Homo sapiens: one gene and its partners. The protein of the gene in region 1 interacts with the protein of each later gene in a biochemical or structural test. Each region holds a gene or a part of one and is shown in the gene's direction. Other genes may lie near its edges.

Evidence for each region. The genes of interacting proteins can lie anywhere in the genome.
Region 2: the proteins of HCK (region 1) and MET form a complex in vitro, tested with the Homo sapiens proteins (one large-scale study listed by BioGRID and IntAct).
Region 3: the proteins of HCK (region 1) and GAB1 form a complex in vitro, tested with the Homo sapiens proteins (one large-scale study listed by BioGRID and IntAct).
Region 4: the proteins of HCK (region 1) and KIT form a complex in vitro, tested with the Homo sapiens proteins (one large-scale study listed by BioGRID and IntAct).

The regions. Positions count from the first base shown.
Region 1 is NC_000020.11:32,086,742-32,090,241, forward strand, and holds part of HCK (tyrosine-protein kinase HCK), read left to right. Parts: coding exon 1-66; intron 67-1,826; coding exon 1,827-1,903; intron 1,904-3,500. UniProt on the Homo sapiens protein: Non-receptor tyrosine-protein kinase found in hematopoietic cells that transmits signals from cell surface receptors and plays an important role in the regulation of innate immune responses, including neutrophil, monocyte, macrophage and mast cell functions, phagocytosis, cell survival and proliferation, cell adhesion and migration.
Region 2 is NC_000007.14:116,794,196-116,796,536, forward strand, and holds part of MET (hepatocyte growth factor receptor isoform b preproprotein), read left to right. Parts: intron 1-1,459; coding exon 1,460-1,596; intron 1,597-1,691; coding exon 1,692-1,929; 3' UTR 1,930-2,341. UniProt on the Homo sapiens protein: Receptor tyrosine kinase that transduces signals from the extracellular matrix into the cytoplasm by binding to hepatocyte growth factor/HGF ligand. Regulates many physiological processes including proliferation, scattering, morphogenesis and survival.
Region 3 is NC_000004.12:143,343,376-143,346,875, forward strand, and holds part of GAB1 (GRB2-associated-binding protein 1), read left to right. Parts: intron 1-84; exon of another isoform or gene 85-160; intron 161-1,680; exon of another isoform or gene 1,681-1,760; intron 1,761-3,500. UniProt on the Homo sapiens protein: Adapter protein that plays a role in intracellular signaling cascades triggered by activated receptor-type kinases. Plays a role in FGFR1 signaling. Probably involved in signaling by the epidermal growth factor receptor (EGFR) and the insulin receptor (INSR).
Region 4 is NC_000004.12:54,734,457-54,737,956, forward strand, and holds part of KIT (mast/stem cell growth factor receptor Kit isoform 1 precursor), read left to right. Parts: intron 1-2,041; coding exon 2,042-2,153; intron 2,154-2,264; coding exon 2,265-2,364; intron 2,365-2,718; coding exon 2,719-2,824; intron 2,825-3,500. UniProt on the Homo sapiens protein: Tyrosine-protein kinase that acts as a cell-surface receptor for the cytokine KITLG/SCF and plays an essential role in the regulation of cell survival and proliferation, hematopoiesis, stem cell maintenance, gametogenesis, mast cell development, migration and function, and in melanogenesis.

The DNA.
Region 1 (3,500 bases):
TGGTCAAACTTCATGCGGTGGTCACCAAGGAGCCCATCTACATCATCACGGAGTTCATGGCCAAAGGTGCTGCGTGCTGGGGCTGGGGGTGCAGGCTGTGGCCTATACTGGTCAATTGCGGGCCCAAGGGTGGCTTGGACATGGTTCTTGCCCTTGAGATGGCCCCAATCTGGCCAGGAGCTCTTCCAACAAGTACTCATTGAGAATCTAATGTGGAACAATCCAGCCCTCCTGGTTAGTGGGGTGAAATCATGTTAAGGGGTCACCAAGGGGAAGGGAGAACAAGGGGCTACCAGGAGAAGGGAATGGGGCCAGAATACTCCTGGGCAATGGGAGAAGGGGCTTATGGTTCACAGTGAGCCTTAGAGGCCAGGGTGTGGCATGGGTGGTGGGGGTGCCACTCTCCCGCATCAGCCACCTTCCCTGTACTTGCCAAAGCCCTGGGAGAGGGAGCTGGCAAAGCAGCAGTTCTGCCCCCACCCCCGCCCTGCCACAACTCAGGATTTCTTGGGGAATTTTTTTAGGCCACTGTTTCACAACCATTTTCAACCCCTGCCATTTTTTGTTTGTTTGTTTTTTAGGGACAGGAACTTGCTCTGTTACTCAGGCTGGAGTGCAGAGGTGCAATCATAACTCCTGGGCTCAAGTGATCCTCCCACCCCAGCCCCCCGAGTGGCTGGGACCACAGGCCCATGCCACCACACTCAGCTAATTTTATTTATTTATTTACATATTTATTTTTAGAGACAGGGTTGCCCTCTGCCTACCCAGGCTGGAGTGCAGTGGCGTGATCATAGTTCACTGTAGCCTCAAACTCTCAGGCTCCAGGATCCTCCCGACTTAGTCTCCCCAGTAGCTGGCACTACAGGCATGCACTACCACACCCAGCTAATTTCTAAAAAAATTTTTTTTTTTTTTGAGACAGAGTCTCACTCTGTTTCCCAGGCTGGAGTGCAGTGGCACAATCTCGGCTCAATGCAAGCTCCACCTACCAGGTTCACGCCATTCTCCTGCCTCAGCCTCCCAAGTAGCTGGGACTACAGGTGCCTGCCACCATGCCTGGCCAATTTTTTTGTATTTTTAGTAGAGACGGTGTTTCACCGTGTTAGCCAGGATGGTCTCAATCTCCTGACCTTGTGATCCGCCCGCCTCAGCCTCCCACCATGCTGGAATTACAGGCGTGAGCAACTGCGCCCAGCTTCTAAAATTTTTTTCTAGAGACAAGGTCTCGCCATCTTGCCCCAGCTGGTCTCAAACTCCTGGGTTCAACTGATCCTCCCAAAGCTTTGGGATTATAGGCATGAACCACTGAGCCTGGCCTAACATATATATTTGTAAATTTCTTCTATAGATGGGGTCTTGCGATGTTGCCCAGGCTGGTCTCAAACTCTTGGCCTCAGGTGATCCTCTCACCTCGGTCTCCTAAAGTGTTGGAATTACAGGAGTGAGCCTCGTGCCTAGCCACTCTGCCCATTTTTTGATAAACAGAATCATCTCATGCAATCCCATTTAGTGCGATTTGAAACCTCAAGCCTTTTTCATTTTAACTATGCAATTATGCCAGTCCTGTGAAGGCATGATCCCAGCCATCCAGGCTCAGGGGCTGTCTCAGTCACAGAATCCATCTAGCAATCAAAAAGTCACTTCACTAAAACTCAATTCTCTTTCTCAAACACTAGGAATTGCAAACAAATATTCGTATTTAAATCTACTACTATGAAAAATCTTCACCACACACTAAAGTACTAGATTGGTGCAAAAGTAATTGTGGTTTTTGCCATTAAATAGTAAAAGTAGTAAATGTTCCTCCCCTCTCCCCCATATAGGAAGCTTGCTGGACTTTCTGAAAAGTGATGAGGGCAGCAAGCAGCCATTGCCAAAACTCATTGACTTCTCAGCCCAGGTGAGAGCCTAACGAGGAAACGGGGAAGGGAAACAGGAATTCGATTTTTTTACTTGCCAAATATTTACTGACCACATACTATGATGATAGCAGTAATAATAATGGGTAAAATGTATTGAGAGCTCAGTATAAAACTATGTTTTTTGCATATATTTTATTATACATGTACTCATTCATTTAATCATCCTATAAGCTTTATAGGCTGGGATTTTTGTTATCTATTTTGGTATAACAAACCATCCAAGTCCTAGTAGCTTGAAACAACAGCAATTGTTATTTCTCATGATCCTGTGGGTTGCCTGGGTTCAGCTGGGTGGTTCTTCTGCTCGTCATGGTAAAGTGAGGTGCAGATGTTGGCACTTGCCCAGGCTAGAATGTCCAAGACATGGCTCAGCCTCCAGGGTCTCTCCACATAGCCCCTCACCACCCAATCACCCAGCCTGAGCTTCTTCACGGCGCAGCAGCTGGGTTCCAAGACAGAGCTGGACCAGGGGCCAAGCCTTCATGAGCAGGCTCTCATTAAGCCTCTGCCTGCATCAGGCTTGCTAATGGCCCATTGGCCAAGTCACATAGCCATGCCCAGAATCAGTGTGGGAGGGGACTGACCAAGGACACAAATCCCAGGGACCCCCTCAATGTAACAGTCTGGCCACAGAGTAGGTAATTATCATCCCATTTTACAGAATAGGAAATTGAAGCATAGAGCAGAAGTAAAGTACAGATGTGGAAACTGAGCCCCAGTGTGGTTAAGTGGCTTGCACAAGTTACTGTGCTAATTATGGGGGATATAGCAGTGAACAAAATGAAAATGTTCCTGTCCTAATAGAGTTCACAATCCAGGTGGGAAGATGAGTATTAAATAACCAAATCTCTTAGAGACCATGACCCAAGTGGTCCTGGCTGAGTCAAAAGAGCACAGTATCTAACAAAGTAAATAATGTTCACAAATCGCAAAAACACTGCTGAAAACCTAATTTTCTTTCTCATGTTCCCCACGCCCCTTGCAGCTCCTCTCACCCCCAGCCTAAGCAGTTTTTTCACTTCTGTCCTCTCTCATGCTCTCTCTGATGTCTGGGAAAACAGAGTGTAAGGACGGGGTGGTATTAGAGTGCATAGCTAGAGCATTTAGCCTGGTCCAGGAGCAATCAGAGAATGCTTCCTGGAGGAAGTGGCCTCTAGGCCGAGCCTGAAGGATGAATAGAAGTTCAGTAGATGAAGAGAAAAGGTAAAGGTCTTTTAGACAAAAGAAACAGCCTGTGCAAAAGTAGGTGAAGGAGTTCAGCCTACTCAGCAGGAGCCCAGGGATAGTGGGAGTTGAGTGAGACCCTGCCTGGGCCTCAGCTGGGCCTGCTGGAGATGCCAAGGGCAGGGCTCATTTGAGTATGCAAATTCAGGGGCCCAGAGGACACCACAAAGTGTAACAAAAGACTCTACTTTCAGAGCCTGGAATGCCAGAGGCATATGGAAATGTGTTTTCACTCCTATGGGCCAGGTCCTCTGGGAGACAATAGACTGGTCTGTTGCTAAATTATCATCTTCAAACTAGCAGAAGCCCTGCTGGGCAGCAGTCACCGACCAGGGCAAGAGCCACTCTGCC
Region 2 (2,341 bases), on another chromosome or scaffold:
CAGCCCTGGGACCTATCTAGTAACTTGAACAGTAACCTACTCGTATGTGATCAAGGGTCAATTGATACTTGTTAAATTGATTTTAAATGTTAATGCATATTCTGGGACTTGAAAGTTAACACGATGATGTTGTCAGAAGTGATTGTTGATTGTTAAGATTTTCAGACTTTGAAAACTTCTACTTTGCAAAGCTGAATTAGACAGCAAAGTTCTGTAGCTCCCTCCTGGCAAGGGGTTTGAGTTTTCTGTTGGGATCAAGGCAGTCAGCAGCCATCAAGGGTTCTTGCACTTGGGCAAAGAAGTCATTAATGGTAATTTGTATCAGCAATTACAGCATCTACCTCATTTCTTTCTTTCAGTCGCAGCGTTCAAAGGCAGGCTTTATTCTCCTTCTTGCTGGGTACTGCAAGCTACACTTGCCTCTCAGTTTTATGTCTTCCTACTCCAGCTGTCTGGTGTGGATTTTCCTTCTGCTCCAAGCTTCCTTCATTTCTTCCTCCTTATGCTTCCTACTCTTAGAGTGGCCTGGAAGTGTTGCTGGGCCAGAACTGCCCCCCTGGGTCCTGTCCACAGGGGCGGCCTCTGCCCATGCTGACTCTCCTCGTGTCATTCTTGCATGGGCACATGTCCAGGGGGAGATAATATGTATGACCTGGTCTATCCTGAGCACAGTGTTTTAAATCAAGAAATTGCATGTTTATTGAAGTTCAGTAGACCAAACAAGACCTAAGGGTCAGGAACTCTTAAATGTTTATCCCAGTGTGGACTCAGATGTATTGGGGAATTTTAGCAAGTCACTTAACCTCTCCGTGTCCCTGTGATCTTCCTATATAGTACTGATACGGCTATTTTATATGAATCTAGTACTTTCACATCTTCATGTGACAGTTTTATTGAAATTAATTTTCAATAGAGAAACTTGTTGCCTTGCAGTTTTTTTTATTTCTGATTTTTAATATGTATTTTTACTTATGTTGATTTAGACCTTCCCATTTAATAGTAACCTTTCAATGTGGTTACATTTCTTAAAGAGTATTTATGTTCAGTTTGAAACCACACAAATTTAAATTTTGGGAGGCTTTCTTCTTCTTTTACAAGTAATGTAAAATTGTAGTGAAGCTATTGGAAAAGAAAAGGATAGAAACATGTTAGTGCTTTGACACAGCGGGAGAGAATTTTGGAAGAGATATTCTACCAACTACAGATGGAATCTTCATCATCATGTAGACTTCAGATATTCTTTTAGAAAACTTTACATTTACTTATAATCTAAACCTTACTTGTTTAAACAAGTCATGAAATGTATAGCTTAATAATTGCCTTTAAGAAAATTGTTGCCCAAAACAGAAACCGTATTGAGTATGTAAAGCCAAGTTTAGTTACCAAGACCTACTGATTTCCTTTCATATATGTATGGTCACATCTCTCACCTCATCTGTCCTGTTTCTTGTTTTACTAGTGGTCCTTTGGCGTGCTCCTCTGGGAGCTGATGACAAGAGGAGCCCCACCTTATCCTGACGTAAACACCTTTGATATAACTGTTTACTTGTTGCAAGGGAGAAGACTCCTACAACCCGAATACTGCCCAGACCCCTTGTAAGTAGTCTTTCTGTACCTCTTACGTTCTTTACTTTTACAGAAATGCCTGCCTTCAAAGGGTCTCTTACAGCATGTCTTTCTTTTTGGAACAGATATGAAGTAATGCTAAAATGCTGGCACCCTAAAGCCGAAATGCGCCCATCCTTTTCTGAACTGGTGTCCCGGATATCAGCGATCTTCTCTACTTTCATTGGGGAGCACTATGTCCATGTGAACGCTACTTATGTGAACGTAAAATGTGTCGCTCCGTATCCTTCTCTGTTGTCATCAGAAGATAACGCTGATGATGAGGTGGACACACGACCAGCCTCCTTCTGGGAGACATCATAGTGCTAGTACTATGTCAAAGCAACAGTCCACACTTTGTCCAATGGTTTTTTCACTGCCTGACCTTTAAAAGGCCATCGATATTCTTTGCTCTTGCCAAAATTGCACTATTATAGGACTTGTATTGTTATTTAAATTACTGGATTCTAAGGAATTTCTTATCTGACAGAGCATCAGAACCAGAGGCTTGGTCCCACAGGCCACGGACCAATGGCCTGCAGCCGTGACAACACTCCTGTCATATTGGAGTCCAAAACTTGAATTCTGGGTTGAATTTTTTAAAAATCAGGTACCACTTGATTTCATATGGGAAATTGAAGCAGGAAATATTGAGGGCTTCTTGATCACAGAAAACTCAGAAGAGATAGTAATGCTCAGGACAGGAGCGGCAGCCCCAGAACAGGCCACTCATTTA
Region 3 (3,500 bases), on another chromosome or scaffold:
AACTGAAGGCAGACCTGCATGCAGGGCCTTTGGCTGCTGTGCTCCTGGGCTGGGTGCTGTGTCTTGAGCCCCTGTGCAATGCCTGGCTCAGAGTAGGAGCTCAACAGATGCCTGTTGACTGAATAATAAACAGGTATCGCAGGAGCTTTTGTTATGTGCCATGTGTGGAATGCAAGGAAGGAAAGGCCCACTCTCTGCCCTTAAGGAGTTTCTAATCTGTTTGTGAAGACAAGCTGTCAGTCATTTTATAGGAGCTATGATATATGATTAGTTGCCAAATGAAAGTTTAGAGTGAGAACAGGGGATGCAGGGGTACGAGATGCCAGGGAAGACTCCGCAAATGAATTTTACACTTTGCTTTTAGAAGAGCTGGTGTACTGCTGGCAGCAACAGCAAAATCTTAAGGGAGGGCTGGTTTTAAAGGAAGAACAAAGATTTGTGTTGAGTTTAGATGTCCTCATGAAAAAAACTGCTTCCCAGCACCCCAGTTTCATGTGAGGAGTTTGGCTGTCAGCTGTATCTTCTAGTTTGAGAAGTTTTTGTTTCTGCTAAGATCTAATGTTCCTCATGGGTTCCTGAGCACAAGTGAATTTTCTGCATCAAACTAGAAATGAACAAAACAACTTGTTTGGTCACCTGAACTTATTAAAATTCCAAGGGACATGAGTTGTTTAAGATTTCTTTATGTCTGTTTTAAGCTAAGTAATTCATTCTGGCAAGCAGTTAGTTTACAACAGAGAGGGAGCATGTTCTGGTGGGAGGGAGAATAAAAGAGCCTTTGATTCATTTGCTTCTGAGTTCCAGCAGCAGGACCAGGGCTGCCTTGGGCTAGCGTCTTATTTCGGACTTTGGAAGCCATCTTAGCCCAGCTGTGTGAGTGCCAGCTCGTGTTGGGGGGGAGAGAATAACACCAACGGATCACATGAAACCCCCTCTCCCTGTGGATGGAGGGGTTTCTCTCATTTCACATTCCTCGCATCAACATGGCGCCTAATTTCCACCAAGTTAGAGCTCCATCTGAATTTGCCATTTGAACTTGGATTGAAGTCACGATCTTTCTGTGACTCCTTTTATCTCAGTCTGCCAACTAATACAGAAAACTTATCAAGTCACAGTTCTCTTTATTCTCCCCTCTTGGGGTATAACACACATAAAATTAGCATTCTTTCTTTTTTATATTACCCCTGGCAAAAAGTGGCCCATTGTACTGTGGATTTCCATATTTATTAAATAACTAGGCTCTTCCGTTGCCAGTGGGATGGCTATAGGAGCCTCAATAAATTGTAGATGACAATTTAGGCCTGTAGAATTGCTGAGAAAAGTCATTTTTAGGAACTGGAATTTTTTGCTCATTCTAGGCTTCTATGTTTGAGCATCTTAAATAATAGAAGAATGCCCTAACTGGAAAAAAGAATCATTTCTCTTTTAAGCAATTCACTTATTCATAGGAGCGAAGTTCTCCCTAGTTTAAAAGGTCGCATTACTGAATAAAGTACACTATAACCTAAGAGCTTTTGACCTTCTCCCAGCCCGTTTTTAAAAAGAATTAAGACTATGCACTGTAATGCATGTTTGGTTGTTATCTCTGTTACATTAGCTCTTGAAGCATTCTGATTACAACTTGTAGCTGCCAAGCCCTGTCCTGCAGTATTATCTGGAACAAAAATTTTCCATGTGGTTGTTTTTAGCAGAGCTACTATATGCAAACTGCACGTGAAGGATATAAGTTATAAAGGAATAGAGCTTCTAGAAGGAGAAATGTGAGTTAACTTTTTTCTACCATTTAATCATTCTTTCCTCACCTCTTAGTGTGTGTTTCAATAATGTTTATCATCTTTCTAAACTGAGTTTTCTTTTATTTTTATATATTAGAAAGAATGCCAAATTTACCAAGTGCTTTTCTGATGGTGGTTTTCTTTTCTCCCAGCTTTTTACTTTGAATTCATACTTGGCCTAGGTAGTTCTCTTAAGTTATGTGTTCAAAAAACAATGTCCTAAGAGGAAAAAACAAATGGCCACATTGTCTCATGAATTAAAAACAACATACCAAGAGTCCAAACATTTCAATGTAAAAATATTAAGCCTTTCTTTTTTTAGGAAGACAAATATTAAACTTTGCTTTAACTATCCTGTTGTTTTTCCTTTCCCTTTTTTATTTATTTTCTTTTGGTTTGACTCATGTAGTTTAAATTTATTTTGAAAACAGCTTTATACATACTTCTTTAAGAATACTGCACGTAGGGGAAAGCATCAAACTTCCATTTTACATTTCAAGAGAAAAGTGAGAGGAGGCCATCCTCCTGTCAGAAGAGGGGCAAAATGTCAAATAATACCAAGGTCTTCTAACTTACTTTTACATTGCTTGGTTATTTATCATTATTGCCTAGAGATATTTAGCTATTTAAACATGAAATAAGCAGGTAAATGTAATTTAAGTTAAGCAAGTTTCACATTTGCTTTTGTGAAACGAAATCCTGGACATAAGCATTGGAAGAACTCAACTCATTTTGTTGTAGTTTTTGTTTTAAATAGAAAATAGAGACAGGGTCTCTACATTCCCCAGGCTGGTCTTGAACTCCTGGCCCCAAGTGATCTCTTGCCTCGTTGTAGTTTTTATTGTTGTATTTAACTCATTAGCCAGCCAGTTGTTGTAACATTTTATTTGCTAACTTTTTAAATGAGAGGAAGGTAAAAGCACTCTGTGCCATAGTTCCCTACTCTCTCTTTTCCTATTCATTTCTGCTTCTCTGTGATATAAGCCTAGACATCAAAAATCACAAAATATTTGTGTCCCAATCTTTACACACACATTCTTTCACGAAACTTTTCTCTAAAAAGAGAGTGTTAATTTGTGTCACTCTTACTTAGTAATCAAGAATAGAAATAATAATGTTCCAACTAGCATGTAGATGTTTTTCTCTCCTGAAATGCAGCTTTTAGTTACTGCTGTATTGGGAAATGTGGTTAGGCCACTTTCTGACTGGCAGAACTCCTCCCTGAGATGACTACCTGATGAAAGAATTACCTGCCTGTGTGCCTTCCCAGTTCCAGTCCTTAGCACATTCCCATCACTGCTGTGGCCAGAGTTGGAGTTGCCAAGACTAAGGTGCTGGTGGAGGGATGACTCCTTGATTATCGAGAGAGAAGTGCTTTAATCTTTGACTTTTGTAAGAGAGATACTAGGTAAAAGCTACCTTCAGCGTTTTGAATTCCAGTGCTGTTGTGTAGAGCTTGATGAGGAACGATTACCTCATTCAGCTAGGGAGGTATTTTTTGAACCCTCTACCCTCTGGCAAAGTTATAATTGACCCCAAAGTTATGTAGGATTATTTACTTTACATGTTCTTGACAGTTTCAGGTTTAAATGTTTGAAGTGTTGAGAAAAGGTAAAAGGAAATATTGAACTCCTAATAATGTAAAATATTTGGGAAGGTACTTTGTTCCTAGTGATGCTGTTACATAAAACCAAAGCCTTCTGAGTAATCTTTGCTGGGTATGTA
Region 4 (3,500 bases), on another chromosome or scaffold:
TATTTACGATCTAAATAATCGTGACGGTGGTTACATACTGTCTTGTTATTGGTTAGTGACCTTAGTTTGAAATGACAAAGAGGGGTTGGCTCTATCAGGCTTCCAGATTGTAGACTCCAGTTCAAGTCAGTTGAACTAACCAATCACAGATCTCGCTTTCACCAGGCTAGTGGGTAAGGAGAATTTCTGGAACAAGATAAGAAGAAGGAAACTCATATATGTTACCGCCCCACATTTTTGTCATCATCATTTGAGATCTCCTTGTTGTGTCAGGTTCTCTGAAGTTCTTTCCTTTCACATGAGTTCTTCATTGTTTTTCATGTCATGGCCCCTTTTAGAGCCTGGTAAAGCCTATGGGACCCTTATCAGAACACTGTTTTCAACGCCTATGATGAAATACATAGGAATACCAAGGAAAACAGTTAAATCGAAATAGCTATGAAGATACTAAGTAAATTTGTGATATGTCAGTACATGTGTTTACTATAGAGTGTAACAGGCTCTGTTAGGTTGGTGTAAAAGTAATTGTGGGTTTTGCTATTTTTTCTAAAAACCACTGTAATTTTAGAGTGGTGATTAATGTAAATATGATTTTGAGATACCTATAAAGACTTAATAGGATATGAAGATATTTATGATTACTGTTCATGACAAAGTCACAGGTACAGCTGATACTACTGCGTTTTATCACCTTTGTTAGTAATTTAAAGAAATGCTAAATTTCATCTAGAAATTAGCGAAAATAAGGATGTCATTTTTCCTTTCCAAGTTCACAGGCCCCTGAATTTGACACCCATAGATCTCAGGTTAGGAGCCCTTATAGGAACTTTAGCACAACATCTAGGAAGGGAAGGGATATTGGAAGTTTTTTGTTTTGTTTTTGTAAGCTGACTAAAATAACTTTAACACCAAAAAAAAAAAAGAAAAAAAAAAAAAGCTTTCCCAGTTTTCAATCCTAAATGGATTAAGAGAAGGATTGATTTAGCTTTTTATGGCAGATTAAGATTGGGAATCCAGAATGCATCTAAAAGGACTAGTTACAGAAAGTTTAGCTCAACTTTAATGGAGAGAGTTCTCCAAAGAGTCAGGATCACAAGCCACTACTGTTTATCAAGTACTTGCCTTTCTTCTAGGCAATTTTTCAGATAGCACTGAGTCAGGCGGTGCTAAGCATTTTTACCCATTTTATCTTATTTAACCCACAAGACAATTCATAAAATTAAAAGTATTCATTTTGTTTTACAGAAGAAGATACTGAGGCTTAATTACAAATATTTTAGTGACTTTCCCAGTGTATTAGAGAAAGTTTTGGGTTTTGACAGAAAACCCAAAATAAAAGAAGTCTAGGAGTAGACTTTATACCAGGATTGGTATAAAGGTTCCATGGAGTACCCGGGCAAGTCTTTCCTTTCCATGCTTAGCCATTCCTGAGTGTAACCCCCATGTCCATGGTCCAAGATGACCACCAGGTGGATAGCCAGCCATCATATCCAGAAGGCAGGGGGCCCTTGCACTAGAGAAGAGAGGGCAGAGGGCACGTGCCAGCTATATTGTAAGGAGGTTTTCCTGAAGCTGCTATACAGCACTTACAACTTAGTGGCCAAAACCGAGTCACCTAACTACAGCTAGCTAGCTGCAAAGGAGGCTGGGAAATGTAGTCCTAATTGTGAGAGGCCGTGTTTCTGTTTTTAAGGAAGGAGAGGGACATATTCAGTGGAAACTAACAAATCTCTGCATTACCTAAGGCCCATGGTGGAGCCAGGGCTAAAATGTCTGGCTGTCTCTGACGTTTGTGCTCTTAATCTCCATGCCGTACTGACATAGTGCTCACATCTTAAAATGGGGATAATGCACTTGTGAGCCATGTATTTCAGAGGTGATTGGGATCATCTGAGTTCATATAGGTAAAAGGTTTTTGTGAGATGGTACTCAAGTTATCACTCCACATTTCAGCAACAGCAGCATCTATAAGAATATCTTCTGTTCAATTTTGTTGAGCTTCTGAATTAACATTATTGACTCTGTTGTGCTTCTATTACAGGCTCGACTACCTGTGAAGTGGATGGCACCTGAAAGCATTTTCAACTGTGTATACACGTTTGAAAGTGACGTCTGGTCCTATGGGATTTTTCTTTGGGAGCTGTTCTCTTTAGGTAAAATGATCCTTGCCAAAGACAACTTCATTAGACTCAGAGCATCTTCTTGAAGTTTCATTGGTGTCCTGCTTCCTTGTGATTAACACTGCTTTGCAAACTGTGTCTCAGGAAGCAGCCCCTATCCTGGAATGCCGGTCGATTCTAAGTTCTACAAGATGATCAAGGAAGGCTTCCGGATGCTCAGCCCTGAACACGCACCTGCTGAAATGTAAGAGCCAAAAAATTTTTCCTTTAGGTCACGTTTTCCCTTTTATTTTTCTTTTTAGAGACAGAAACCCAGATGTTGAGGGTTTTCATAACACAGTTTGAAATGTCACTTGGATTCTTTATGACACACTGGTCAAATGTCATTTCTGTAGTTTATTTTCATAATCTCTTGTCACCAAAAATACAGAAAGTTTCAGTAATATTTCATACATGCAGTGTTTTATGTTATCTATATGTCAGTCCATATGTCCAGTTGCATAGCCCTGGAATTATTACTGAAGTTGCTGGATGCCCATACATTTGAAAACAAGCTGAGGGCATTGAGGAGGGATAGTAAATGGCCCTTGTCTTGCAGGTATGACATAATGAAGACTTGCTGGGATGCAGATCCCCTAAAAAGACCAACATTCAAGCAAATTGTTCAGCTAATTGAGAAGCAGATTTCAGAGAGCACCAATCATGTGAGTATACCCTGGCCAGGCATAGAATCCCCCTTCTCCCAGTTCCAGGTGTGTCCTCCTCCTCAGGCTTTCAGGGTGAGGACTAACCTCCCAACCCCTTCTCTCCTAATCTTAGGTTGCAAATTGGGCTTCAGGTAGGGGAAGTAAAGCAATGGAAACTAGTTCTTTCTGCCCAGCCCTCCTGTTCTGAGCCAAAGAAGGATGTGAGATTGAGGGGGAAGGGTGGAGAGTTTTGTACTCACTGGAAGTAGAAGTTTCCATAAGGATTTGCCATGTTTCCTCCCTCATCTCAAATGCTGGTCACGGGGTCAGTATTTTCTCCCTCTCACATGTCAGGGCCATGCATCCTTTGGAGGGTTGGGGTGATGTGAACTAGAATAAAAGCATAGAAAAGACAGCTTGTTACTGCAGTGAAATAAGCCTTCTGATCAAACAAGCATAGCCAGAAAATGGCAGATAGCTGTCATGCCCACAAGCCATATAGAATGAAGAGCTGTTTGAAGTTGGGAGATCCCTCCCAGTGATTTGGGAAGTGTGGGGGAATGAAAACTCAAATCCATTATTTCCTCTCTTTTTAAGCAAGAATTAGTGATACTTTGACTCAGATTTTTTTAAGCTGCTTTCTTTCCTGGGCTGTGTGCTTGGAGCTATCTTTTCTTTCCTAATAGCACACCAC